Linked DNA regions of Homo sapiens: all the other regions are reported to be linked to region 4. The links are microRNA targets in miRTarBase. Many come from high-throughput screens and were not tested one by one. Region 4 holds a microRNA gene; each other region holds the end of a gene's coding sequence.
Evidence for each region. Region 4 holds the annotated microRNA hsa-miR-4445-5p (AGAUUGUUUCUUUUGCCGUGCA, at 3,795-3,816, opposite strand). A microRNA usually pairs through its seed, bases 2 to 8, with sites in the 3' UTR of a target mRNA and lowers its output. Matches are read on the target gene's strand: a 7mer-m8 pairs with bases 2 to 8, a 7mer-A1 pairs with bases 2 to 7 and ends in A, and an 8mer does both.

Region 1: the mRNA of HECTD2 is a reported target of hsa-miR-4445-5p. The part of its 3' UTR that is shown has no 7-base or 8-base seed match.
Region 2: miRTarBase lists AP3M1 as a target of hsa-miR-4445-5p. Seed matches in the 3' UTR shown: 7mer-m8 at 2,888-2,894 and 7mer-A1 at 3,018-3,024.
Region 3: miRTarBase lists PCMT1 as a target of hsa-miR-4445-5p. The part of its 3' UTR that is shown has no 7-base or 8-base seed match.
Region 5: miRTarBase lists RASSF8 as a target of hsa-miR-4445-5p. Seed matches in the 3' UTR shown: 8mer at 1,010-1,017.

The regions. Positions count from the first base shown.
Region 1 is chr10:91,511,437-91,517,490 of GRCh38, forward strand. HECTD2 (HECT domain E3 ubiquitin protein ligase 2) reads left to right here. Exons shown (of 21, transcript NM_182765.6): 21 at 828-3,384. The coding sequence ends at 948. The region is part of intron 3 of HECTD2-AS1 (HECTD2 antisense RNA 1); the gene reads right to left. Among named protein-coding and RNA genes, the nearest start is that of HECTD2-AS1, 97 kb to the right of the region's middle.
Region 2 is chr10:74,118,820-74,124,873 of GRCh38, reverse strand. AP3M1 (adaptor related protein complex 3 subunit mu 1) reads left to right here. Exons shown (of 9, transcript NM_012095.6): 8 at 350-494; 9 at 964-4,619. The coding sequence ends at 1,064. It overlaps VCL (vinculin), which reads right to left. Exons shown (of 22, transcript NM_014000.3): 22 at 4,705-6,054. Among named protein-coding and RNA genes, the nearest start is that of AP3M1, 29 kb to the left of the region's middle.
Region 3 is chr6:149,800,862-149,806,915 of GRCh38, forward strand. It overlaps PCMT1 (protein-L-isoaspartate (D-aspartate) O-methyltransferase), which reads left to right. Exons shown (of 8, transcript NM_001360452.2): 7 at 1,339-1,555. The coding sequence ends at 1,518. It overlaps LOC107986660 (a long non-coding RNA gene), which reads right to left and starts at 4,478. Exons shown (of 2, transcript XR_001744415.1): 1 at 4,442-4,478; 2 at 2,264-2,932.
Region 4 is chr3:109,600,597-109,606,650 of GRCh38, reverse strand. It overlaps MIR4445 (microRNA 4445), which reads right to left and starts at 3,823; the gene lies at 3,754-3,823.
Region 5 is chr12:26,067,288-26,073,341 of GRCh38, reverse strand. It overlaps RASSF8 (Ras association domain family member 8), which reads right to left. Exons shown (of 6, transcript NM_001394098.1): 5 at 5,629-5,773; 6 at 473-4,645. The coding sequence ends at 4,524. Among named protein-coding and RNA genes, the nearest start is that of BHLHE41, 55 kb to the left of the region's middle.

The DNA.
Region 1 (6,054 bases), not on the chromosome of region 4:
CCTCGGCTGCTAGATGTTTTGTGTATATCACTCTTTTAATCTTTTTAACCATCAGTCCTCAACCTTTTTGGCACCAGGGATCGGTTTTGTGGAAGACAGTTTTTCCACAGAACCAGGGAGGAGTGGGGAGAGTGGGAGGTGGTGGTAGTTTTGGATGAAACTGTTCCACCTCGGGTCATCAGGCATTAGATTCTCATAAGGGGCATGCAACCTAGATTCCTTGCACGTGCAGTTCACAATAGGGTCCTTGTTCCTATGAGAATCTAATACTGCCGCTTATGTGACAGGAGGCAGAGCTCAGGCAGTAATGCTCGCCTGCCACTCACCTCCTGTTGTGCAGCCCAGTTCCTAACAGGCCACCAACAACCATACCCATCTCTGGCCCTGGGGTTGGGAACTCCTGGTTATTAAACAACCTGATTAGGTTATTAAACAGCCTAATTGGATGGTTTACCCTATATTGTTGATGAGGAAACTGGGATTTGGGGATATTATGCAACTCGAACAAGACCCCACAGCTAGTAAGTGGGGAAAGCAGAATTCAAATTCATATCTGTCTGACTCCAACAAAATGCTTCTTAAATGAGTTTCATGAAAGTGGTAACATTGGTTGTCTTGTCTGTAACCACAGCCTTAGTGTCTAGAGTGGTGTCTGATACAAAGTGAGGTACTCAGTAAATATCTGTTCAGTGAAGAAATGGATGAGTCATCTCTTAACAGAGTGAAATAGATTTGAATGTGTGTGTCCTGGTATTTTTTAAAGTTGCATAGCAGTCATTTTGTGTGTGTTTCAAGACTTAGTATTTTTTTTTAATTTTTTTCCCTAGCTTACCTGTGGCCCATACCTGCTTCAATCAACTTTGCCTTCCCCCCTACAAGAGCAAAAAGGATCTGAAACAGAAATTGATCATTGGAATTTCAAATTCAGAAGGTTTTGGACTTGAGTAACCTAGAAGACTTGAAATATAATCTTTTATATGTAGCATTCACTTCCCTCTTACTGTGCCTTTAGCCTTTTCATGTTTCTGTCTCAAAACACTTTGACAAAGCTCACCAACTTTAAAATATTAAGTTTTTAAAAAATCAAATATGAAGTATGTTCAGCAAAGGCATAATTTTCTAAAAACACACACAGAAATCGCTTGAGTGAGGAAAAGTCCACATGGCAGAGACAGGTATGGTCCAGTTCCTCTTTTATATAGCACTTTATCATTCTCCACAAGTAGTTTGTCACAGGCATTCCACTGGGAAAGCAAAGTACAGTGAAGAATGAATTTATGGTATAGTTGAACCCAGTGGCAGATTGTACACTGCTAGCACTGCTAGCACACAGTAGCAAAGCAAACAGCTACATTATCTTTAACATAAGGCATGTAGCCATATTTTCATATAGTGGTATACAACACAGTATCATTGCAAATGCAGTTTACAGGGATTTTTGATATACTGGCTTGGGACCTATAAGATTCTTCTCAGCAGTTGCTGAAAAGCATGTAAATAACTACATAATAGCCTGAGAATAATGGGATTTTGATAGTGCCATTTATTGTTAAAGATTTATTTTTACAAAGTAAATTCAGGGTTTTAGATGTGTACACAGCTTTTACAAATCAATAAAGATGATTGTACAAGAGTATTTTCAGACTAATTGGATTCAAGGTTATATTCTTTTAAGTGTTGTTAGTCTGCATGCACATTGGCAGTAAACTAGTTACTTGTGTACTCTGTAATATTTGTATAATGATCATTTCTTCTTAAGGCTCAAGATATTAGAAAAGAAATCAGACCTAAATAATCATTGATGAAGTATGTCAGTTACAAGCACAAAAGAATATAACTGCTTTTATAAATCTTTTGAATCATGTACAAGACTTATATCTACATTTTTTGATCACCAGTTGTACCAAAACACTAATTTTTGAAAAAGATAGGTTAAAGTATTTGACAAAAGTGAATACAATAATAACACTTGTGTCAAAATGATATAGCTTAGTATAAAAATAAAATTCAACGTTTTGGCCAAAATGTTTGTTTTTCACTGGATTCTGAATATAATAAATTCAAAGTACCCTTTTTTTAGAGTTTCTAATAAAGTAGTATGTAAAAAGAAACTGCATTTTAAGTCAGACAGTAAATGTTTTTTTTAATTTACAGCAAATGAAGCAGTTTTATTAGCATGTTACAAATATTGCCAAACCAAGACTTCTCTACCATACTTTAACAGCTTTCCTTCAGAAAACTCTGAAGTTATATTTGCAATAATAATGAAACCAGCATTTAGTACCAGCATATGGTTCATATGCAAATAATACTTTCCCCAAAATCTTTCTGGGCTAGGCTATTTTCTTGCTATGCTTCCTGCACCCAACCAGCAGAATTCTTCCAGGGTGGAGGAACTAATCAGCTTGTTCTCCAACAGTTCTGAAGCCAACCCACAAATCTTTGAGGAAAAGGGGTCACTTTGTTTACTATTCTCTTGGAGATGGAAGTGATTCTGCTCTTCCATTTGGGTATATTATTTCAAGGGTATTTCTTCTTAAAAATCTTGGAAAGCCTAAGAGAGTTAAAGGCATCCTGGTTTTGTTTCATTTTGCTCTGTTTTAAATCCATATGCAAATAAAACTGCTTCTCTCTTACACTGCTTGAACTAGAAAATCAGCTTTTTAATGTAGGTTACCACTTATAAGCACAAAAGAAACATGTATAAGAAACCAGATTTAAGTGTTTTAAATAAAATGTAAACAGTTTTTATTTGGTAGAGATGACTCATGGAAAAATTGTGTTGGCTTGGTCTGCATGTTTAATGATGTGCTTGTATATCGATTAGCTGTGTCACTTTTAAATAAGAAGTCCACACAAGCAAGCCAAATTTTTAGATGACGAAGTCCATAAATAACTAGAGAATTTTTGTTATCTGTTGTTAAGTTGAAATGTATAATCATTTATCACTAAATTGCACATTGCCTTTATTTATTTGTGCTCTGTTTTTGGTTTACAGTGTAATAATACCTCATTTAAAAAATAAAAACCACTACTGTTACATTTTATTAATTTAAAAAGCTAGAAAATTCATGTAGTTACTTTTTTTACATATATAATCTGTTAATGAATTATTGATTTTTGTATCTGCCACAGTAAATTAAAGCATTACACAGTATTTATCAGTATTTTTTAAACATCCTGTCCTTTTTTAAAATCTTTGCTTAGTCAGTCATATTTTTGTCTGTATGATTAGAAGTTTTTACGTCCTTCCTTTTTTGTACAAATCTGTATTGTATTAATTTCTGGATGCAATTTTTCAAATATTAAAATTATACAGTCAGTCAGGCTTCAGTTTATTTTTTGAACACTTGGGCAATTAATTAAAGCCATATGTTTAAAATATTTTATAAATGCAAGCTATTCTTTGCATTATACTCTCTCAATCTAGTGCTTAGGAAAATTGCTGACACATAACTTCAAAAGATGTATGTTGTTGACATTAAGTATTACCAACCTCTGTAGCATATTTTCAGCATGAAATGTATATCCAATATTTGAAAGATCACACAGCTATTCCACCAAATGAATGTATAATACCATTTGGAGTACACCCAGAAGTGAACCAAGTGTAACATTTCATTGGCCGTAGATAGATAACTTCAGCTCTTAAGTAAGTATTCCTCTCCAAAACCATTCATTTGGCCCTTTTCCCCTTGTCCACATACCTCATGCTTAAGGAAGGAAGAGTGGAGATTATAAGAATGTAAGAGAGAATGTTATGGGTGATTAATGAAAGAAAATAGGTAGCTGGATGGAAAAAAGACCAGGATGGGTTTTCGCAGGAGGGGACACAAGATCAGTTCACCCAGATGGCCGCAAATCGTTTAGTCTAGTGCCTAGGTTTTGGAGCCAGACTGCCTGGGTTCACCATTTACTAGCTGGGCAAGTTAACTTCCTCATTCCTCAAATGTACAATGGAAATAATTTGTAAAATGGAAATAACCTACCTACCCCATAGAGTTGTAGGGAAGATTAAATGAACTAATGTGTAAAGCACTTATCCAGTGCCTGGCACATGATAAGCAATAAAAAGTGATGCAAGACAAATTATGGTACTGATGTAGAAACATCCTACAACCACTGCTTCTGACGCCTTCTGGAGGCTTTTGACTTAAATGCTGGGTTCAACCACAGATTATAGAACGCAAAGTGCTTTTGAAGCCTTAAAATTGTGTTGGGAGAATCTTTCTTATTCTAGAAACAGTACTGTAGGATTTATCCTTATAGCTGTCTCATGATGCAAGGGTTTTAAATACTATTTTATAGCTGTGTAACAAGATACAATTCTATTTTTAATGAAATAGTTCAAGTAAACAGAAAAATTTCAGGATTAACATAATGAAATACCATGATCCCACACTCAGACCTAAAAAATGATAATATGTGTTAATATTACCAGTTTTTTAAAAATAATTTTGCAAATGGGATTGAAGCCCCTTTTGTGCCCATCTCCAATCCCCCTCTACTCCCTCTCTGTTCTCTGTTAACCTGTAGTTCGTGTGAATCTTTCCCATGCTGTCTTTACATATATGTACCTATGTGTAAACACTATGTAATATTGTTACAGTTGCATACATCTCATGCTCTATATATCTTTCCAAAACTTTTTTCACTTAATATTGTCTTTTATAGATTTATTTACATTTAGATATAATGCATTTTTAACTGCAGAATAGAATCATGAAATGCATGTACCACTTTCTGGATCCATCCTCCCACACACTAACATTGAGTTGTTTTCCAGTGTGAACCAGGCTCTCTAGACTATAGCCCAGATGTAGAATTGCTGGATCACAGGCTGTACATCTCCGGCTTTACCAGATATTGTCCACTTGCTCTCCAGAGTGGTGGTTCCGGCATTAATTTCCATCAGCATTATAAAGAGTTGTCGTTTGTCCACATTCTCCCCAACACTTGGCTTTAGCAGACCTTTCTTGGCTTATTTAACTAGTGTGATTTAATTTCTATTTCCATAATTGTTAATGGCATTGAACACCTTTGTGTATATTTACAGGCTCTTCAGATTTCTTCTGTGAATGGCCAGTTCAATATTCTTAGCCTGTGTTTTCCTATTTTTTTTCCCTATTGGTGTTTAGGAGTTTTTTCCTTATTCTGGATATTGATCCTTTGTTAACAGGAGCTACATTGCTTCAGTTGAATTCCAGATCTGCCAATGACTAAGTGACTTGGAACAAATTACTTCAAATTACTTAATGTTTCTTTGTCTCAGTTTACTCATCTAGAAACTAAAGAAAATAATACTTAGCTCACAGGGTTGTTAAATAAGTTTCCATACAGGTATATTTGTATGTATGTACATATGTATGTATATGTGTATATTATATATAAGTTTATAAGTGTATCAGATATATGCATATGTATAGACTTACATACTTAAACTTACAGAACATACATATGAAGGGCTTACATTTGTGCCTGACCCATAAGTGGTCTCTAAATGTTTGGTATTATTACTATTGTTATTACCTGTATTCTAATTCTTATTGTGCTTGCATTACAAATATTTTCTAATATGTGGCCTAATTTTTAACTTTATTTACCTCATCTTTTATACTATGAATTTTTAATGTTAATATAATCCATAAAATAAGGTGCCATTATTATCATTTTATGTAGATAATGTTTAGATTTAACCACACATTTACAACTTCTTCAAACACCATTCCCTCTTCTATGGTCCTCCACCTACCTCTGGAATCAAATTTCCTCCTCATAAAGAACATCTATTAGAAATTATTTTAATGAGGGTTGGTTGGTAGCAAATTATTTTAAATAACTGTCACCTTTATTCATGAAAGATTTATTAAGCATACATTTGTAGGTTGATAATTATTTTATAGTTTTTAATATATTAATCCATTACCTTTGATTTCGTTGTTGACATAAAGTTAGCTATTAGTATAATTGTATGCCTTGGTAATCTCTCTTTTTTCTCTGGCTACTTTTAAGATTTTTTTTTTTTTCAAAAAATGGTAGAACATCAAAGCCAAC
Region 2 (6,054 bases), not on the chromosome of region 4:
GCGAGTCATTTGATCTCTGAGCCTTAATGTCCTCTGAGCTTTAATTTCCTCATTTGTAAATAGAAGACAAAAGCTACTTCACAGCCCTCAATGAGACAACATATGAATAATGCTAAGCACGGTGCTAATACAAAAGAAAATGCTCAACAAATGTAGATTCTCTGCTCTCACTCCCCATTCAAAGTCACAGAATTAATCAGAGGTAAACTCACTGTAGATGCCAGATCTCTTGTTTTCAAGAGACTGCACTTCAGTTTGTACAGAAGTTTATGATATCTTTGAACTTTGTTTTTGAGGGTTTGTCTTTAATAAATGGTTCTATTTGTTTTTCATTTTTTGTCTTTTTAAGGTACTAACATGGGATGTGGGAAAAATTACTCCACAAAAGCTCCCAAGTCTTAAAGGACTGGTAAATTTACAGTCTGGAGCCCCCAAACCAGAAGAGAATCCGAGCCTCAACATACAGTTTAAGATCCAGCAGCTTGCTATTTCAGGTAAGGATAAGGTTGACTTGTAGTTAAGGGTAATTGAGTTTTGCAAGCTCATTTATTAGGCATTTAGAAGAGTAACAAAAGTTTCCTTCTCTAGAAAGAGCAGTAGCCCATTTGCCTTTTATACTGTGCTTGGTGGGGCAGTCTCACAGGCACCGACCAAATGATTTTTCAGAGCACCTTATTTCAAACAGCTTCCCCTCACCTCCGCCCTCATTTAAGCACCAAAAAGAGAGTTATTCATATTCACAGAAAGTAGAATTATACTTCACAGACATTCCCTGCCTGTGTGGGAATCTTAACCAAAACCATACCATCAAAGTGCAATAATTTGTAAATGATAGAAGAGACATTTCTTCCAAATGGTGGAAGGGACACTGGTTAATGTCAGATTTACCATATAGCGCTCATTGCTAACATTATATTGGTTGGGATGATGATAATTTATTCTTTTTCATTCTTTTTGATACAGGCTTAAAAGTAAACCGTTTGGACATGTATGGGGAGAAATATAAGCCATTTAAAGGAGTCAAATACGTCACGAAAGCTGGAAAGTTCCAAGTGAGGACATGAGAAGAGGCCAAAATTCCTCAGGACCAGTTTGTTTTCCAAGTGTCATTACGATGTATCACTATTAGGTACCAAGTGAGTGGGAATACATATTCTAGTTAAAGCATTTGTGTCTAGCTACACACCGCTAACAAAGTTACTTAGTTATCAATGTAGGATTCTTAAGGAGCTTTAAGCTAAGGAAACCTTTTAGTGACTTAGCTTATTTTGTATCTTTTCACTTAGGAAGATTTTGGAGGTGATTTTTTTCCATAGGAGGATACCATCTGGCGGCTGCACATTGTAACAGTAAAGGCAGAAAGCTGTAGTGATAACCTCTCTCCTAAAAGAGTTAACTGGTCTCATCCAGCAGAAGCTATCTTAAATCTGTGATGTGTCAGGTGCAGCCAAATATCACACCTTCTGATCTTAGCCATCCCAAACCAGTATCTGTCCCGAGAGGAAATTCCCCCCACCCCCAGAAGTTTACAGAAAACTGCCTCTTCAAGTGTTTGCCTTATTCAGCTTTTCACTTGTGCCATTAAGCAAGCACTGTAGCAAAAGCCACTTCCACATGGCCCTGGCAGGGAGCACTGCTGCTCCATGCTCCATTCTCACTGTACTTGGTATTGTATTTTTTATAAATAAGATTTTTATGTAAAGCTTAGAATTTGATTTACAGGGACCTTGCTGCAGTAAATACCATCTCAATTTTGTGCCACTGGTTCAGCTGTTAGCACAGTAAAAAAATCATTTGTATCAAAGGGGCAAATGCTTTATTAAGGTAGTAAAAGGGAACATTACTTCTGCTTTTAGGAAGTTACTGCAAGCACAAGCATTTGTGCTTTTAAGCAAATTAAAGTAGTAAAAGAAAAACTTAAGTGAAACCTTTGCCATCTTCATGTTTTATAATATAAAGCTTACCCAACACCAGTTAAGCCATGGTTAACCTAAATGCCTCATGCCCCAGTTCAGCAAAAGGAGGAAAATGTGCCTGCCTCACAGTCATCAGTCTTTTTAAATCTTTTTTGTTGTTGTTCTTAAGGGTTTGAATTTGTCTGCATTCCTTGTCTTTAGGGGAAATTCCCTTTTCATATTGTGTGCTTCCCAAAGCTATAGTCATAGATTTCTTCCAGAAACTATTGTCATAATTGTCACTGGAGTGCTTAAATATACGTACTATACTGACAAAATACATGGAAGTGAGTTATAATGAGGCAGAAACAAAATCCTCGGTAACATTGATGATACTCTACCGATCACCGTGGTTTTGGAAAGTCAGTCAACAGTTGTATTATTGCACTCAATTTCATTGTGACATTTTATTTAACTTCTTCATCTTGGTGGTCCTTGCCCAGTTATTTTGCCTCATTAGACATCAAGAAATGGAGAAAGACTGAAAGTTAATATCTTAAGTGCTTGTTCTTCATGTTTCCTTCTTGTTATTTATGCTATTCTCTTTGTGGCTCCATTCTTCTTTCAATCTTCTCAGCTTATAACCGTCTTTCCCTTATGCTAAGGATAGCCCTTACACTCATCCCATCTATGCTGTCAAGGGCTGCTGGTTGGTGCTGGTACAAGGAGCCCACTCAGCAGTTTTCTTACCTTTGCCTGCCCTGCCTTTCATGGAATAAGAAAGGCAACGTTTTGCAGCTTCCAAATTTCTGAAGAAACTAATCTCAGATTGGCAGTTAAAGTCAAAATGTTGCCAAATATTTATTCCTTTTGCCTAAGTTTGGCTACCCGGTTCAATTGCTTTTTATTTTTAATGTCTTGACTCTTCAGAGTTCGTACCTCAAAAGAACAATGAGAACATTTGCTTTGCTTTCTGCTGAATCCCTAATCTCAACAATCTATACCTGGACTGTCCAGTTCTCCTCCTGTGCTATCTTCTCTTCTATCCAAGTAGAATGTACGCCAGGAGCTCCTTCCCTCTAGCAATTTCTACTAAAATGTCCAAGTAGAATGTTTCCTTTTACAATCAAATTACTGTATTTATTAATTTGCTAGAATCCAGTAAATCATTTTGGTAGCTCTGGCTGTGCTATCAATAAAAAGATGAAAGCAACAAGTTGATTTTTTTTAGGTCTACTATTGATTGAACATTCTCCAATGGGCAAGGCTCATTGTCAAAGCAGGGTGAACATGATCAGATTTTCTTCTGCATCATCACACAAGCTGCGAGTGTTGCTGCAAAGCACTTCTCAGTACTCCTTCCCTAACCTCAGTATGTTAATAGCCATTCATACTTGGCTTAAGCATCACCATTCTGGCCACAGTCTGAGAGATTAGTGATCAAAGCTCCCTTCCCTATCACTACCACCACCTACTGATAACAAAGATTTCTGAATACTTAGTAGTAGTAAAATATTTTTCAAGCACAGAGTTACAGCTAATCCTGGATCACTTGTTCTAAATTCATAAGGGAGTATATCAAGAGCAAATGAAGTAAATGATTCTTTCCTGCGTGTGGGAGTCACCATCATTTTATTCAAAGGGAGTTCCTGTGATAGGTTCATTCCTTAAGTGGTGCTACAGAAGGACCCTAGGAAAATGCTGATCTTGTCCTGAGAGGCAACTGATTTGAGAAAATGATTATACTACAGCAGGAAGGCAGCACCAGTGAACATATGGTAAATGGCAAAAACAAGACAGTTTTAGAAACTGCTAATTCAGTAGCAGCCTTGGCCTTTCCCTTAACTCAAGCAGGCTGGAATCTGTCTTTATAGTCGGCAACTTTCCAAGATAAAGCAGTGATAATAGCAGTTGGCAACACTAAATATCAATATCATCACCCTTTAATGACATGTTACCCCTTTCAGATCTAGAAAATCAGGGAAAAAGTGATGTCCCAACTCTACTCTAAAAACCTGCTCCTACTATTTTAGTCAGTGTTTCTTTAAGGAAGAAGAGGACTATGTCCCCAAAAGCTAACTCTGTTTTATAGCCCTGGTGGATCCCTGAAAACCCTATTTATTCTATACTGGGCTTTGGAATATGAAAAATGGACCTGTGTGGCCGGGCGTGGTGGATCACACCTGTAATCCCAGCACTTTGGGAGGTCAAGGTGGGCGGATCACTTGAGGTCAGGAGTTCGAGACCAGCCTGGCCAACATGGTGAAACTCCATCTCTACTAAAAATACAAAAATTAGCCAGGCATGGTGGCGCACACCTGTAATCCCAGCTACATGGGAGGCTGAGGCAGGAGAATTGCTTGAACCCGGGAGGCAGAGGTTGCAGTGAGCTGAGATTGCACCACTGCACTGCAGCCTGGGCAACAGAGCAAGTCTCTGTCTTGCAGCAGGGGGAAGGACCTGTGGTACTCCTACAAACTTAACAACTTTAGCTTTTCGGGGAACAGTGGTGGTCTCCACAGATAGCTAGAATCTTCTAAGATGAAAATAAACTGTTTCATCCAGCTGCTTTCTGCCTGTTAACCTTTGCCACTTCCATTCCTTCAAGTGTGTAATCCCCAGGGTTGTCTTGTATTACACACATCCTTGTTAAGTAAATATACCACTGTTGATTTCTTCTTCCAGTGCAACATTTGGATTAAATAAAAATCTTTAGTTTCCAGATCTTGAGGATTAGTTTCATTGACTATTCATCAAAACAAAGGAGAAACCTGACCTAAAAGTTCTTGCTAAAGTAACATATCCATCATTTAAAGCATTTTTTATACAAATGCATTTTATTGTTTTAAACAGAACAAAAGAAGAGGCAGAAAATATTTGCATATAACAAATCCTAGCTTATAAATGTAGTTTTTTAGCGGTGATGTCTCTAATCATCATTCAGGGATTTTTTTTTTTTTTTTTTTTAATTTGCTTCACTGTGTCTCGAGCACTGATATTGGAGAAAAGCACATCCGGCATAAAGTGTAAACCAGTGTCTCAAACCACTGGAAGAACCGGGAGAGCAAACATGATTTTTCTTATTTCCTCTAAGTAATCTTTCTTTAGTAAAACAACAAGTGATCTTTGGCATAGATTCATACTTTAAAGGCATTAATATTGCATTTATATCAGGCAAGCAACTATACAAATATGCTGAGGGCCTTGAAAATAATCATCCTCATTATAAAGGAAATAGTGAAAGCCTGAGTGTAAAGGACCAACTTAAGTTGTACACATTCGATGTTGGGAACTAACACACAGCGATGGGTGGGAAGGAAGGATGTTCAGGCAAGGTTCTTACTCCTTTACTCATCTGGTTCTGGCTTTGGGAAAAAATAAGGTTTCATGTGCTGGGAAATACTTAGCAGTAATAAGTACCAAAAAGGAAACACTGCCCTCTCATTTTGCCTAGTAGGAACTTACTGTGGTGATAAGAAATATGAAACCCATTACTCTCTTGAACCCCATACTTGGGAGTAGATGCAGAGAGCTTGGTTGTAGTTGGTTGCAGGGAGGTAGGAATTACAGGAGTAGTATTTCCCATTGATTCATCTTCAGCAGCACTAGAATTCTAGTCTGCAAATACCACTCTCCCTTAGGCAGGAAGTGTCCTTCAGACAGGGCTGCCTTGCCATTAAACACTCTTAGGGGACAAGCACTCCTCTTTCTTAGGACTGAATTTAAAAAGGATCTTTTAGAGTTACAGATGAACAAACACCTACATGTCTTTAAAATCTTGTTTAGAAAGGATGTGGAGGAAGGCTACAAAAACCAGGATAGGAGACATGTTTTGGTTAAAATTAAAATGCAGCATTTCAGCTCAAAATGAACAATTAAGAGCTAAGAATGAATGATAAGGCCTCAGCACAGACCTCTGCAGGCAGTGACTAAGCATGGAGTGCCGGGAGTGGCCCTGCTGGGAAGATGGCAGGGCCACACCCTGGCTACTCTGCCCTTCCAGTGGCAGAGAGCACCAGGACACAGTGTGTTCATGGGATGGCTACCTTGGCGGGCTGAGGCAGGATATGGGACGGGAAGTTTCCCTAGCACAGACATTGCTCAGGGGCATGGTAAAAGCAGAATCATATGATTCTGTGATTTCTTCCTGACAGTGAAG
Region 3 (6,054 bases), not on the chromosome of region 4:
CAGGCATTAGAATTCTATGCTCTGCCTTTGGCCCGCCAAGAGGATAGTTCTATATTAGTTGGTTCAGTTCAAACATTTTGAGCACTACAGTTGTACCAGGTACTGTGTTAGATGCTAAAGACACAAAGATGAATAAGACACAGTCCCCATCCTCAAGAGCTTGTCGTTTAATAGAGGAGGCTGATAGTTGAGTAATAATATAACAATCAAAGTATGTACAGGGTGAGTATCCCTTCTCCAAAATATTTGGGACCAGAAGTGTTTTGGATTTTGGATTTTTTCAGATTTTTTCACATTTTGGAATATTTACATATACATAATGAGATATCTTGGGAATGGGACCAAGTCTAAACATAAAACTCATTTATGTTATACCTCTTATACACATAGCCTGAAGGTAATTTTGTATAATATTTCAAATAATTTTGTGCATGGAATAAAGTTGTGATTGCATTTTGACTGTGACTTGCCACATGAGGTCAGGTGTGAAATTATCTACTTGTGGTGTCATGTTGATGTTCAGAGTTTTGGATTTTGGAGCATTTCCAGTTTCGGGTTTTCAGATTATTGATGCTCAACCTGTATATACTATGTATTTATTTTTAAGACGGAGTCTCGCTCTGTCACCCAGGCTGGAGTGTGGTGGCGTGATCTTGGCTAACTGCAGCCTCCATCTCTGGGTTCAAGCAATTCTCCTGCCTCAGCCTCCCAAGTAGATAGGACTACAGGCATCTGACACCATGCCTGGCTAATTTTGTACTTTTTTAGTAGAGTTGGAGTTTCACTGTGTTGGCCAGGCTGGTCTTGAACTCTTGACCTCAAGTGATCTGCCCACCTTGGCCTCCCAAAGTGCTGGGATCACAGGCGTGAGCCACCGTGTCTGGCCTTAATTTGTATATACTAAATAAAGAACGTTTCTGCTTTCTGCCTATGGACACTAAAAGTTGTTTATAATGATGTCAAATGACTATTAATATAAAATCTGGGCCGGGCACAGTAGCTCACGCCTGTAATCCAAGCACTTTGGGAAGCCGAGGTGGGTGGAGTACTTGAGGTTAGGAGTTCGAGACCAGTGTGGCCAATATGGTGAAACCTTGTCTCTACTAAAAATACAAAAATTAGCTGGGCATGGTGGCGTGTGCCTGTAGTCCCAGCTACTTGGGAGACTGAGGCAGGAGAATCACTTGAACCTGGGAGGCAGAGGTTGCAGTGAGCTGAGATCGTGTCATTGCACTCCAGCCTGGGCGACAGAGTGAGACCCTGTCTCAAAAATAAATAAATAAAATAAAATAAAATCTGTAACTTGGTGATGTATGTGCTTTTTTTTTTTTCTTTTAGCTAATAGATCAGTTAAAGCCCGGAGGAAGATTGATATTGCCTGTTGGTCCTGCAGGCGGAAACCAAATGTTGGAGCAGTATGACAAGCTACAAGATGGCAGCATCAAAATGAAGCCTCTGATGGGGGTGATATACGTGCCTTTAACAGATAAAGAAAAGCAGTGGTCCAGGTGGAAGTGATTTTATCTTCTGCTCTTTCTTCTTCCACACATGCAAGGTGAAAGGGTGTGGATTTTAAGACATTAGACTACAAGAGCTGTTTTTGGTTGTCACCTTTATGCTCCTCCATTATAACGTCAGAAATTCATTACATTAAAAATGTGAAAAATGTTGCATGGTCTGCCCTTATTTTGGTTTAACATATATATCTTTGGGAAAGGGAGGGTGAGACTTGGTTGGCACAAAGGCTTTTTTTGTTTGTTTGTTTGTTTTTTTTTTAGAGAGACTTTCAGCTTCAATTCAGTACTTTGTAAGGATTTTTTCTTCATTATCAGCCACTCTGTTTTTATGTTTTTAAATTATTTTTATAGCACTGGATGGGCATGGAAACAATGAGTTTGGTCTGTAAAAGAGGCCAGGCGGAGTGGCTCATGCCTGTAATCCCAGCACTTTGGGAGGCCTAGGTGGGCGGATCACTTGAGGTCAGGAGTTTGAGACTAGCCTGGCCAACATGGTGAAACCCCGTCTCTATTAAAAATACAAAATCAGCTGGGCGTGATGGCACAGGCCTGTAATCCCAGCTACTCGGGAGGCTGAGCCAGGAGAATTGCTTAAACCCTGGAGGCGGAGGTTGCAGTGGGCCGAGATTTTGACACTGCACTCCAGCCTGGGAGACAGAGCAAGGCTCTGTCTCAAAAAAAAAAAAAAAAAAAAAAAAAAAAAACAAGGGGCCATCATTTCCTGCCCTGTTTATTGTACCAACAAGGAGAAAGAAGGGGAAAGATAACGGTCGTCTCAGTTTTCTAAAATGTCAGAATACCAGAGAGGACATTCTACCTCTCAGCTTGGTTTATCTGTTTCAACCAAATCATAGATACCTGACAGCCCATGCCTATTTTTCATTCAGCCTTGTTTAAGAGTCACCTTCTCCCCATTCTATAGAATAGGCCAGCCACTGTTTAAGCTATTCTGGCTAAATTCCTAGGAAGAGGCAAGGATTCTACAAGTTACCCAATGAGTGCCCAGGTCTCACAAACCCACCCAGAGGGTCAGCAGCATGCAGCAACTTTCAGCACAGCATGGTTTATAAAGAATGTCCACTTTTGTTTTATGTCTCAGCATAATCTGAATATTTTGTTTGAAGCCAAGATTTCTCTTTTCCTCCCCTTCCCACTCCCTTCCATGAGAGAGAGTGACATCAGTACATAACAGTGCCATTAGCTCAAATTACTTGAAATTAAATGCCAAAACAAGAACGGCTTTACAGTTTCCTTGTCTTAGCATCTTATTTTTATTTGACATAAAGATTCTTATTTTAAAATAATTAGTTTCTTAATAAGTAAAAGGGGTGATAATAAGTTTAATAGATCTCTCAATGTTGTTTTTATTCTTCACCAATAGCTATTTTCTGTGAATTATACGTGGAGCACAGCCACTGGAAAAAAAAAAAAAAAAAAAAGCATTTTAGTCCAGGCATTTTGGGAGGCTGAGGTGAGCCAATCATCTTAAGTCAGGAGTTTGAGACCAGCCTGGCCAACATGGTGAAACCCTGTCTCTACTAAAAACACAAAAATTAGCTGGGCATGTTGGCTTGCATCTGTAGTCCCAGGCACTCAGGAGGCTGAGGCAGGAGAATTGTTTGAACCCAGGAGGCAGAGGTTGCAGTGAGTCGAGATCACACTACTGCCTTCTAGCCTGGGTGACAGAGCGAGACTCTGTCTCAAAAAAAAAAAAAAAAAAAAAAATTAAAAAGGCATTTAAAAAATTACTGGTTTTTTCAACTGGAATCAGATGTAGTTATTAACAACTAACTAAAACCTTCCTTCACTTTGCTTCTAGTATGGTTTATACAATTACATAATTGTGAGATTATTGTAGTATAAAAGGGGCAAATATGTTACTGAAATTACTGAAATTTGATAAGAAGAGTTGATTTTCATTAGCAACTTAGAAATTTTTCTTTTTATATACAATAAATATTAGTGTTGAACATCTTGCCTATAATTTATAATTTATAATTATGAAGGAATTATAAAAAGGGAATTTTGTTTTTATGACTAGAGGTAGATTTACTGTGAAGCTAACAAAGCTGAAGCTGCAGAGCCCTTGCTTGTCTAGGTTTTCTCTGACCCTGTTCTTAATTTAATTTAATTTAAAAAAGTGTTTTTTTTGAGACGGAGTCCTGCTCTGTTACCCAGGCTGTGTAGAGCAGTGGTGCAATCTCAGCTCACTACAACCTCCGTCTCCCAGGTTCAAGCAATTCTCCTGCCTCAGCTTCCCAAGTAGCTGAGAGTATAGGCGCCCAGCTAAATTTTGTATTTTTAGTAGAGAAGGGGTTTCACCATGTTGGCCAGGCTGGTCTCGAACTCCTGACCTCAGGTGATCTGCCCGCCTCGGCCTCCCAAAGTGCTAGGATTACAGGTGTCAGCCACCATGCCTGGCCCTGTTCTTAATTTTATATTATGCATAGTCTTACTGATTTTTTTTTTAACTTCATAAAAAGGTTCCCCTGTTTTCTAATTATATAAACCTTAGGCCCCCACAAAACCTGAATCCACCTTTGATAAAACCAAACTATTTGTATTAAGAAATTTAAAATAGGGCCAGGTATGGTGGCTTATGCCTGTAATCCCAATGCTTTGGGAGGTTGAGGTGGGAGGATCACTTGAGGCCAGAAGTTCAAGAGAAGCCTGGGAAACATAGTGAGACCTCGTATCTACTAAAAATTTAAGAACTAGCCAGGCGTAGTGGTGTGCACCTCTAGTTCTGGCTACTTGGGAGGCTGAGATAAGAGGATCACTTAAGCCCAGAAGCGGCAGTGAGCTGTGATCACCACAGCATTCCAGGCTGGGCAACAGAGCAAGACCTTATCTTTAAAAAATATATTTAGAATAATTTTTAAATTTATGGACAATTAGTCATCTGCTAAACATTAAATGTATACCTGCTTTTAGGCTGGGCGCAGTGGCTCACGCCTGTAATCCCAGCACTTTGGGAGGCCAAGGCGGGCAGATCACAAGGTCAGGAGATCGAGACCATCCTGGGTAACATGGCGAAACCCCGTCTCTCCTAAAAATACAAAAAAATTAGCCGGGCGTGGTGGCAGGTACCTCTAGTCCCAGCTACTCGGGAGGCTGAAGCAGGAGAATGGCGTGAACCTGGGAGGCCGAGCTTGCAGTGAGCTGAGATCGCGCCATTGCACTCCAGCCTGGGCAACAGAGCGAGACTCCGTCTCAAAAAATGTATACCTGGTTTTCTTTTTGACCTTCAAAGTTTTTTAAAAATTGAACAAATTTAGGCTGGGCACAGTGGCTCACGCCTGTAATCCCAGCACTTTGGGAGGCTGAGGCGGGCGGATCACGAGGTCAGGAGATCGAGACCATCCTGGCCAACATGGTGAAACTCCATCTCTACTAAAAAAACAATACAAAAATTAGCTGGGCGTGGTGGCAGGCACCTGTAATTCCAGCTACTCGGGAGGCTGAGGCAGGAGAATCACTTGAACCTGGGAGGTGGAGGTTGCATTGAGCCTACATTGTGCCACTGTACTCTAACCTGGCGACAGAGTAAGACTCTGTCTCAAAAAAAAAAAAAAAAAATTGAGCAAACTTACATGTTCGCACTATCAGAAAAAAAAAAAATTTCTCCAGGTGTACCAGGAGGACTTTCTAATTTTTCTGTTGTAGATGCTTTTCTTTGGCCATTTGTTCAGTTGCTAAATATTTTTCAGCGTGAGGATCTTCTTAATATTATTCGTGAATTCAACCAATATGCATATGCCAACTAGGCCAGGCACTGTACTAGGTGCCAGGAGTCATCAGCTGTGAATTTGAAACTGACTGCTCTCATGGAGCTTACAGTAACGTAGGAGATGCAAAGACCAAGATGAATAGGCAGTTATAGGGTAGTGTTCAGACTCGCGGTAGGGAGCCAGGCATTGAAGTGGTCAGAATTACATTTCAGAAAGATAACTCTAGCTGTTATGTAGAGACTAGCCTGGGAAGGGACAAAAGTCGAGTCAGAAACAGGAAGTGGTTATAGCAATTCAAGGATGAAATGATGGTCTGCATTAAGGCAGTGTTAGTAAGGATAGAGAGAAGTGGGTGGATAGCTACATCTAAAATACTGTCACTGTTTTCTGGGAATTATCATCTAAAAAGTTCCCTAGTCAACTTCTTGCCAGGCTACGTGATTTCTGTTCTTTCAAACTTTCCGTTTTTGTTTTTGTTTTGTTTTATTTTGTTTTGTTTTGATACAGTCTCTCTCTGTCACCCAGGCTGGAGTGCAGTGGCATGATCTCTGCTCACTGCAGCCTCAACCTCCTGGGCTCAAGCGATCCCCCCTGCCTCAGCCTTCTGAGTAGCTGGGACCACAGGGTGTGCCACCATACTCAGCTGATTTTCTTGTTTTTTTTGTAGACAAGGGGTTTTGCCATGTTGCCCAGGCTGGTCTCGGACTCCTGAGCTCAAGCGTTCCACCCACCTCAGCCTCCCAAAGTGCTGGGATTACAGGCTTGAGCCACCAGCCTCAAACTTTCTTCAGGATTACTTTAACTCA
Region 4 (6,054 bases):
ATGCATAAGGGATTTAGATAAGAAAAACAGGTCTCAAAGAACTTAAGAAATCAAGATAGAAAGTACATAGATAAGGTGTCATCAAATTATTAACACACAAATGATAGGAATTATATGACCACAGATCCATATTTTAAACAGCATTATTATATAGAAAGTAGAAGAGTTTTAGACCAGAGACTTACAGTCCAGAAGTAGTTTATTCATCTTTTACTTTGTCATCTTCTCTCAGCAAGTCAAAATTCTCATCTATAAAATGGTAGTACAAATACCCATCCCTTTTTCCCCATAATAGGTTGTCATGAAGAAAAATAAAACAGTGTTTTCAAATGTAATTTGATTTCTTTGAGGAATTTGCACACATAAATCCAATTACACATAGTTGTAAATTTGTTATTCACTTTTTCCTCAAGCTACTAATTGCCCCAAAACAGCTAAGCAAAGCAGCTCAGTTAGGAAACAGCCGACTTTTCTGCTTTTTGATCTGTTTCTGACCTAACTGAGCCAGGCTGGTACATTACTGTTGATAATGGCACATTTTAACAAATTTTATTTAAATACATCAGGAACCCATCACTTCCCAATTTGGATTTGAAAATAACTGCTGGAACAGAGAGCTTGGATAATTTGAACACCTGAGCTTCTACATTAGCTAGAGTAAAAGACAGTCAAGTAAATATATAAACCAAACGCTACCCAGTTTGTACATCTAACCATCACAAAGTCTGTTTTCTATTATGTACCAATGCGGGAGTATCAGGATATCTTCACTAAGCCTAAACTATGAATAGATTGCTTTTTGTGCCATACTGTGTACATGTATCTATTTGTGTCTATAAATATGAGGGAGAAGTTTTAATCTTTGAGCTGAAGAAGAAAGGGGACATGTTGTTGTTGTTTATGGTGATGGTATAAGTACGACAATGATACTTGTGAAAGGAGTATTCATAAAGGCAGTGAAAGGGATAGATGTTGTGTTGTCCCCTTCATTGAACTGATTAACCAGTTTTAAACCTCTGAAAATGAAGGGTTAAGGGAAAAATCTTACAGTTAACATCAAAAATGTGATGAGGCTCTAAGCTTATACAGTGCTGCTTTGAGGTCCAGTGGAGAATTAAAAGGGGGAAACAGCAGAAAGTACCTGTCACCCAGAAGACTCCAGTATCACAGGTAGTGATAGAGGAATAAGCCAATAATTCAGGAATAGTCACGAGCACATGAGAAGTCTTCTTCCAGGGCACATGGGATTCCGTCATGCTAGAGGCATCTGACCTCACCCAGGGAAACAACATTTGACAGTAGACTGAAGCCACACAAAATGGTTTGGATATTGGAGCAATTGAGATATAGCTGTTAATGTTAATGGTATCATATATGTTCTCACAGGGTTGTGAAACCAGTTACATATACCCAACTTATTTATATTTGCAAACTGTATCTATTTCAATATATCATCTCATATTTATTCAGCAACAATTCAATTACCCATTTCAAGAGTAAATTATATATACCATCTTATATATAATCTAAATCCCTTAGCTGAAATGAAATTCTTTTTCTGCTTCAAAACCTCACAGATCTTTTGAGTATTGAACTGTATGCAAATATAATGGCCACTGTGGATAGTTAATATTTTAAATAAATAAGTCACCTTTATAAATACCAAAGTGTTATTAACCATTTTTGAGTCTAGGAACAATATAAGAAAAGGTTGTTAGTGTTAAGGAATGTTTGAGTTATAAGAGATTCTTGCTATTGTAGAATTGATCATCCTTTATAATCCTCCAGCAACTGAAGCCTTTCCTGCATGTGTGGATTTCCCCAGCCACAAAAGCTGAAAATGCCAAACATTCACCACCCTGCTTTCTTTATAATTAGGGCCTGGGCATAAGACATAGGCTCTGCTAATCAGACTTGGTAGTACTAAATTTTTACTAGCAAGAAGATGGCAAAAAAAGTAGAGACCAAAGAAATGTTCTCTGGTGGCTCTACCAGCTCCTGCAAACTGAAGCCCTGCTCAGCTTTGTTAGGGGTTCCTGCAGCTGATATTCCCATTTGGGGTAATAGTGGCTGTGTTTTTCCACCAGACCACTTTTTCCTGTCCGTGTGAATCTGCCCCCAAATTTTCTACCCACTTGGAGCATCTGTGAACGTCCCAATATGCTTTTTTTTTTTTTTTTTTTGAGATGGAGTTTTGCTCTTGTCGCCCAGGCTAAAGTGCCATGGCATGATCTCGGCTCACTGCAATCTCTGCCTCCCGGGTTCAAGTGATTCTCCTGCCTCAGCGTCTCAAGTAGCTGAGATTACAGACACTCCACACCATGCCCAGCTAATTATTGTATTTTTAGTAGAGACTGGGTTTCACCATGTTGGCCAGGCTGGTCTTGAACTCCTGTCCTCAGATGATCCACCCACCTTGGCATCCGAAAGTGCTGGGATTACAGGCTCCAATATGCTTTTAATAAATCCCTTTTCTGTAACTTGTGACATTGAACTCTGATTAATAAACTTGGGTTTGGAAGAGTGATCTTAGTACTTTAAAAAATGTTAAACTATTATTTATCAAAATGGGCATGCTCTTCTATCCTTTATTAAAATCTCTGCCAAAAGTCACCTTATCAGAGAAGCCTTTTCTGACCAACCTTTCTAAAATGCACTCCCTACCAATTGCACCCCCTCGTCCACTGCTGGATTTTCGTTAATATTATTTGTCTCTGACCTGATATTATTTTATTATGATATTTTCTCACTGATACATAAGACCCATGAGAGCACAGACTTGGTATGAGACAGTTTTCTATGAGTTCCTCCACTGCAGCTTTTTTCCTAAATTCATTATAATTTTTATTTCAATAGGTTTTTGGGGAACAGTAGGTGTTTGGTTACATGAATATGTTCTTCAGTGGTGATTTCTGAGATTTTGGTGCATTTATTACCCTAGCAGTGAACACTGTACCCAATGTGTAGTCTTTTATCCCTCACCCACCCCACATCCGTTCTCAAAGTCCCCAAAGTCCATCGTATCATTCTTATGCCTTTGCATCTTCATAGTTTAGCTCCCACTTATAAGTGAGAACATACAATGTTTGGTTTTCCATTCCTGAGTTACTTCACTTAGAATAATAGTCTCCAATTCCATCCAGGTTGCTGCTAATGCCATTATTTCATTCCTTTTTTATCGCTGACTAGTATTCTACAGTATATATCACAATTTATTTATCCACATATTGATTGATGGACATTTGGGCCGGTTCCATATTTTTGCAATTGTGAATTCTGCTGCATAAACATGTGTGTGCAAGTATCTTTTTCATATGACTTCTTTTTCTCTGGGTAGAGGGTAGTTCTACTTTTAGATCTTTAAGGAATCTCCACACTGTTTTCCATAGTGGTTGTACTAGTTTACATTCCCACCACGTTAAAAATGTTCCCTTTTCACCACATCCATGCCAACACCTATTATTCTTTGCATTTTTTTATTATGGCCATTCTTCCAGGAGTAAGGTGGTATCACACTGCAGTTTTGATTTGCATTCCCCTGATCATTAGTGGTGTTGAACATTTTTTCATCTGTTTGTTGGCCATTTGTATATCTTCTTTTGAGAAATGTCTATTCATGTCCTTAGCCCACTTTTTGATGGGATTGTTTGTTTTTTTCTTGCTGATTTGAGTTCCTTGTAGATTCTGGATGTTAGCTCTTTGTCGGATGTATAGATCGCAAAGATTTTCTCCCATTTTGTGGGTTGTCTGTTTACCCTCTGGATTGTTTCTTTTGCCGTGCAAAAACTTAAACTTGCACGGCAAAAGAAACAATCTGCAGGAAAAACAGACAATCACAAAATTTTGCTGTGCTTAATTTAGTTTAATTAAGTCCCCAGCTATTCATCTTTGTTTTTGTTGCATTTGCTTTTGGATTCTTGGTCATGAAATCCTTGCCTAAGCCAATGTCTAGAAGGGATTTTTCTGATGTTATCTTCTAGAATTTTTATGGTTTCAGGTCTTCGATTTAAGTCCTTGATTCATTTTGAGTCAATTTTTGTATAAGGTGAGGGATGAGGATCCAGTTTCATTTTTCCACATGTAGCTTGTTAATTATTGTAGCACCATTTGTTGTTGAATAGGGTGTCCCTTCCCCAGTTTATGTTTTTCTTTGCTTTATCAAAGATCAGTTGGCTATAAGTATTTGGCTTCATTTCTGGGTTCTCCATTCTGTTCCATTGGTCTTCATGCCTATTTTTACACCAGGATCAGCTGTTTTGGTGACTATGGCCTCCAGATTGGTTCTTTTTGCTTAATCTTTCTTTGGCTATGCAGGCTCTTTTTTGGTTCCATGTGAATTTTAGGGGTTTTTTTTTCTAGTTCTGTGAAGAATGGTGATAGTATTTTGATGGGAATTGCTTTGATTTTTTAGATTGCTTTTAGCAGTATGGCCATTTTCACAATATTGATTCTACCCATCCATGGGCATGGGATATATTTCTATTTGTTTGTGTTGTCTATGATTTCTTTTAGCAGTGTTTTGTAGTTTTCCTTCTAGAGGTCTTTCATCTCCTTGGTTAGGTATATTCCTAAGTATTTTATTATATGCAGCTATTATAAAAGGAGTTGAGTTCTTGATTTGATCCTTAGCTTGGTCACTGTTGGTATATAACAGAGTTACTGATTTGTATACATTAATCTTGTATCCTGAAACTTTGCTGAATGAAATCAACATGGAAATTTAAAACTTCTTCGAACTGAATGATAACAGTGACACAACCTATCAAAATCTCTGGGATACAGCAAAGGAGTGCTAAGAGGAAAGTTCATAGCCCTAAATGCCTATATCAGAAAGTCTGAAAGAGCACAAACAGACAATCTAAGGTCACACCTCAAGGAACTAGAGAAACAAGAACATACCAAACCTAAATCAGCAGAAGAAAAGAAATGACAAAGATCAGAGAAGAATTAAATGAAACAAAAAAATACAAAAGATAAATGAAACAAAAAGCTGGTTCTTTGAAAAGATAAATAAGATTGATTAGCCCATTAGTGATATTAACCAAGAAAAGAAAAGAAAAGAGAAGATCCAAATAAGTTCAATTAGAAACGAAATGGGAGATATTACAACCCATACTATGGAAATACAAAAGACCAGTCAAGGCTACTATGAATACCTTTACATGCATAAGCTAGAAAGCCTAGAGGAGATGGATAAATTCCTGGAAATATACAACCCTCCTAGATTAAACTAGGAAGAAATAGAAACTCTGAATCAACCAATAACAAGCAGTGAGATTGAAATGGTAATTTAAAACTTGCCCTCAAAAAAAGTCCAGGACCAGACAGATTCACAGCTGAATTATATTATATGAGACATTCAAAGAAGAATTGGTACCAATCCTATTGATACTATTCCACAAGATAGAGAAAGGGGGAATCCTCCCTAAATCATTCTATGAAGCCAATATCACACTAATACCAAATCCAGGAAAGGACATAACAAAAAAAAAAATGAAAACTACAGACCAATATCCCTGATGAATATAGATGCAAAAATCCATAACAAAATACTAGCTAACCAAATCCAACAGCATGTCAAAAAGGTAATCCACCATGATCAAGTGGGTTTCATACAAGGGATACAAGGATGGTTGAACATAATACAAGTCAATAAATGTGATACACCACACAAACAGAATTAAAAACAAAAATCACATGATCATCTCAATAGATGCAGAAAAATCTAGCATCACTTTATGGTTAAAACACTCAGCAAAATTGGCATAGACAGGACATATTTCAATGTAGTAAAAGCCCTCTATGACAAAACCACAGCCAACATTACACTGAACAAGGAAAAGTTAAAAGCATTCCACTTGAGAAATGCAACAAGACAAGGATGCCCACTCTCACCACTTCTATTCAACATAGTAGTGGAAGTCCTGGCCAGAGCAATCAGACAAGGGAAAAAAATAAAGGGCACCCAAATCAGTAAAGAGGAAGTCAAACTGTTGCTGTTTGCTGATGATATGATCATATACCTTGGAAACTCTAAAGACGCCTCCAAAAAGC
Region 5 (6,054 bases), not on the chromosome of region 4:
GTAAAGCTCATGCATCTCTACCATGGAATACAGAAAAGTGCCTTGAGGTCTGAAACATCTAAGTTCAAATGCTATGTCAGTTACTTAGGGGTTGTGTGATTTAGGAGCAGTTCCTTGGATGGCTGTGAATGTTTAAAGTGTGACCGGTGCCCCATATTGCACTTGGCACGTAGTAGGGACTGAAATGTTAGTTCTCTTCCTCTCACTTATGGTTTTAGGGAAATCTGGGAATACAGAGATTCATTAAGATATCATTTCTTCTTTCACTTTTGAAATAAAAGGCATAGTAGTTTCTTAATTCAGTTTTACTTTGATGAAGCCATCTTTGGAGCAGTAGATGATTCTTTAAGTATATATGAAAAATGTAATTATGTGTAGTGATATGTGCCACTATTCTCTTTGGTATCTTTTAAAGGAAGTAAAATTGTATTTAAAAATATAAAGGATGTAAGAAACAAACTGACAACTGTAATGCCCCAATGAATCCTGAAAATTTATTATTTGGGAGAATATCCAATATTGATTCTTTGTTTTACAGCTCATAATGATCAGAAAATATACATTTAAAATGAAAGTCAAAGAAAAGGATAATTACATATAATACATATTACAGATTTATTTGTACATAAGCAAAGCAGTACTAAAAGCATATTTATGTGCTCACAATTAGTGAACATGGCAATTTTCTGTTTAAAGCTGCAGCAACTCAAATCCTCCTAGGGTCAATAAAGAAAAACATATTGAGAAATACATTTAGGGCTATCACCATGTCTGGCTGTAAATCTATTTTTTAATCTTTCCCCTCCCCCCATATATATGTATATACTTTATTGCCTTTATATTTCTGCTGGTTTAATATAATTAGTATACGAAATAGTTTTCTGCATTTATTTGGTTTCTAAAAATATATAAAATGCATTGAAAAGAGCTCCTGCAGCTTTCAGGCAGTCACTGTCCTGGCATCGAAAGCTTATTCTGGAGATGTAAAGCAGCAATACTGAATAAATAGTGATTGTTTTGTCTTTTTGATACAGCTGATGGCCTTCACCCCAAACTTAAAAATACTGTAGCAAATAGTATAAACATGCAACTTAAAAAACTGAACACAATACAAAAGTAATAATTATAAGCTAATTTTAACACAATATAAACCAATAAAGACAACTTTAGGTAGGAGAGGGATGTGAACACAGCATCGTTATATAAATTAAGGCCAAATTTATCAAAGGCAATGCACAATGGGAACTGTCCATCTGCCCAAGCACTTTGCATGCCTGAAATCAAAAGTTTTTGTCTTTTCTGTGTTATTTCCTCAATCCATTACAGTTCTATCTTGGAAGATGTTTACAGAAATGGCTTCAAATGAACAGTCTGTTTCTCTGAAGACCATTTTGCTCTTATTCACAGAGAAAATTATCCTTTAATGCAGATGTAAATTACATTTATGCTGTGGAAGCAAGTGCTTACATGTTCTTGTTATATATTGCTATACTTCATATTTCACACCATAAATTCTATTTTTTTTTTACTGTATTTATATAGTTTTTACTCTATCAGTCTTGCTGTAGCTCTTGTTTATGACTAATTTGAACTATAGGAATTGATGATTACCTCATTGATGACTGGGAGAATTAAATAGGTAACTCCTATTAATACCAACTGAAGTCTCATATTATAAAAAAGTCCCTGTGCATCAAGACAAAAAACAAAATGTTATCAAACCAAAATATCTCAGAAGGACAAGAAAGGGACTATGGACACTATGTCCACAGGCAACACACTATGGGCCATTCTCTGAGGATGACAGACACTCAAAAGGTCAAATATACCAATGCTATTCCAAATTATTTCTTGGTAAGATAAAAAGATCTTTAAATGTATTTAATACTTGTAGAAAATCACAATAAAACAAGTTGCAATATGATTTTTTTAAAAAAAACACAAAACATTGAAATCTAATTTAGTATTTAGAACCTGAACATTCCCCCAGATGAAAATTTTATATTTGGTATTTTTGTATACCATTGCCCACTACCCCTCCGAAATGTATCCAGGATGTGGCACTTATCTAATTCATTTGTATTTGCAATAGATAAAAATGATCACAAATATACTAAAGTATCTTCAGATGATCCTATGAAAACGAGTTTTTTTCCCTCTGAGTCTTAGAAAATATTCCTTAGATATGTGCTTCCAGAAGTAATATAACTAATTAAAAAGTACAGCTTCTCAATGTATTCAACATATTCACATTTCTATACTTTCGTCGCCTAGGAAATTTTTTTAAATCTGTAATTAGGTCTATGAAGATTATTTGGCAGCTTGGAAATTCTGATGAAGTTGTCAGAGAGGTTAACTGTGATACTCTGCTGGGAACCCAAGACTACTACAAGTTGCTAGGATGCTGCTTGTCCTTACTTAAAGTTATTAGGTTAATTCTGATAACAATTTATAATGAGTTGGATATTGACAGTGTTTTTCGTGGTATGCCAAGGCATCTCTGAAACTCCTAATTGCAAAGTTTAATACTGCCTCCAGTTTAACATTTTGACTTAAAGAAAATGCGATCAATTTATAAAATGTTTTTCTTTGTGAATAAGATCTTGATTTCTCTGAACAACAACAAAATGACTTTATACAGAATGACTTATTTAAAAATAAGGCATATATTGGGCATATGTAAATCATTACTGTCACAAAATCTATAAATTATTTTTTAATCATCCTAATTTTAAATATAGGTAGATAGAAAATAACTACTATAAATTGTGAGCAAATGTGTACAGGTTGTGGTTATTTAGGTAAGAATCATTTACTTCAGTTATTTGCAAAGTAACATAATGGCAAGATCAATTTGATAACTCCAAGAACCCAAAGAAACTCATATCTTCAGTTGAGGTCCGCCACTTAGCTGCACTAGAAAAGGCAACTCTGCATTATGACTTTCAGTTCTCTAGAAGCTTCTATACAGTCTCATAGCCATTCTTAAAAATTTCATAGGAAACCTAAGTAGAGCAGCATTGTCAGCATTCACTAAACCAAAGTCAGTCAAATGTGTTAAAACATCCAAAGTTGCCTTCATGCATAAGACATAGCTCTATTGTTACCATGGCATTACTATATTAATCCACTTTTATTTTGTTGCATGTAAATAATACAGAGGATGTAACTTCTTCAGAATTAAAACTACTTTAAATTTCAGATTAAAGTCTTAATTATACTGTACCAAATCTAACCAGAGGGAATGTAAAAATGGCTAAGTGGTGTCTGACTGAATCTGTCTAAATATTACTTGTAAATCTTAGTTAAGTCACTACTCATCAAAAAGGTGTTGAGTCATATTTGGTTTTACAAATAAAATAACATATGTACAAATGGAGATTAATGTCTTGTAAAAGTCAAGCCTAAAAATAAAAACATATGCTGAATTTGACTTTATATCCTTGCTAAAAAGTACCTAGGTTTAACCTCCTTTCCATCTAAGTGACTGGAAGAAACCACAATGGTCCATAATATGCAGAGCAAATTATGTGCAAGCAATACCTTACCCATGGTGTGTACACCAACAGATCATACATATGAAGCGGGTTATTTTAAAATACATCACTTAAAGCAATGTTCCTGAAGTAGACCAACCCAGCTTTCAGGTATCTATAACTTCCATGTTAGATTAATTCTGAAGATCCATGAGTGTAAATGATAAGACAGGGCAGAAACAAAACACATAATGTATCAGGAAACCCCATGCCTGTTTGGATACATACTTACCAATTACATTTTTGTTCAACAGTGTCTGAAACACTGCAAATGTTTTATACATACAATTTAGCTTATGAAAAATATCTGTTATGCTCTGTGGCCACACGTATATTTGGAAATATTGTAAAGGAACGACTAAATTCCAGATTTAAAAAACCCTGAATTATTTCACCTAATTAAGCAATGGCTAGGACAGTTTCACAAAACAAATGCAAGTGGCTTCCTGTGGAGTTAGCTTCGATGGTGGAGCACCCTAGGACACTTGTGTAGTGTAAATCAGCAATGCATGGATGGAGTCTGGCAACATGCACACGGTCATAATCACACAATATGTAACGTAAGTCAGTCACAGGATAAGTCAATAAAAATATTAAAACATCAACATTCACACATTGATTACATGAAATAAATTAAACTAAGCCAGTCACAAATTTCTCTTCACTCTTACTTAAGTCACGGCTTATTTATGTATACACACTATATAATACTTTCCTAAAGCTCTCAAAATGCTACAAATAAAAACGAAGGCTTTGCATTATAGCTGCTGGACAAAAATATCAACACTGTTGATGTGTGAAAACACAGTTTCTTTGTTCTTTAGCATCAGTGCACAGGGTATGGCTCCAAGTGGTATGCAATTTAGGAGAGAAAAAACATACAGCGTCTTGTGGAATAGATCCTCTGTTCATCATTGGCACAAATCAAAAAGGAAGTTTACTGTCCTTGGTACCTCTGTTGGGTCTCCTCCCTAAAGACAGATAATGTCATACATATATGCCTTCAGGATTAAAACCAGATGAGATAGGATTCTGCAGAATGCGGAGATTACTGGGGAGCTGCCGAGATGAACCAGGTCGCTTCAGGGACCCAGACTGGAATGGTGCCTCTAAACAGGAAACAAAGAGAGCCACCTGATGAGCTCGTCAACTTGGAGTACTTAGCAATATAAAAAATCAGACTGCTTCCTACCCCAAAAGGGAAAACTGCATAGAGCAATAATTGCAATCCCCTGTGTGCCCTGGGCTGGGGGAGAAGGCTAAAACCTTCTCAGGTCTCTTTGATAAACTAGTTTTTGTTGATTTGAACAGTGAATGATCTTTACAAAAGGTGAATATTCTGCTTCTTTTTTTGGTTGTTCACACCATATGCATACACAGATTTGGAATTGTCTTTTAAATATCAGCACAAATTAATAATAACTTTTAGAAGAAAAAGAAGGAAAAGGGGGGCATAAGGAACAGAGAAGCCAAAATTCAAATTAATAGACTATAACTCATATATACTTCAGAAAAAAGTTTTAATAAAGAAGTAGTTTCAAACTAATGATATGACATTTGGTGATTACATGCTCACCTAAGTAAATAAATAACCTAAATGTTACTGGTTTTCCTCTAGAAATGGGAAATATTTTTTTAAAAAAAGAATTTTTAAGTGTCCCACTTAAAAATTAGCTATGAATGTTAGGGTAATATTTTAACTGAATACAAGTAGTTTATTCAAAGTTAAGCAGATGGTCGGGCATGCTGGTTCATGCCTGTCATCCCAGCACTTTGGGAAGCTGAGGCAGGCATATCACTTGAGCTCAGGAGTTTGAGACTAGTCTGGGCAATATGATGAAACCTCATCTCTACAAGAAATACAAAAAAAGAAAATCAGCCAGGTATGGTGGCATGCACCTGTAGCCCCGGCTACAGGAGGCTGAGGTAGGAGGGTCACCTGAGCCCAGGAGGTCGAGGCTGCAGTAAGCCGTGGTAATACCCCTGGCATTCCAGCCTGGGCGATACAGTGATACTATCTCAAAAAACAAAAACAAAAAAAGTTAAGCAGTGAGAATAAAGGGAAAATAAACCATATTTATCAACATCTTACCCCTTTCAATGTCTGCATGTGAGGCCTCTATTTCAATGGGCTCCGCTGGCAAAACGGTAACTTTTGTCCCTGTCTGCTGGATGAACTGCTGGAGATTGACTTGCCGCAACTCCTTAGTCAACTGCTCCAGTTCCTGTTCTTTGTCCTAGATGGAAATTATTATTTTTTTAAATTTGAGGATTCACTACTGGACAGTGCAAGACATCTTTGTGAGGATCCATCTGCTACAGGGGTTAAATGTGCAACATCTGCTTTCATAAAAGCACATTTAACAAATCTGGTTTATATTGACACAATGGGCTAAAGAGGTCACTTTCACTCTGTGGTGTAGGCCAAGAAATAAGCCAAGGGAAGACAACAGTTTCATTAGTCTGTCCTCTTAAATGTGATGCTTTCCTCTGGAAAACCATTATGCACCCTTCTGAA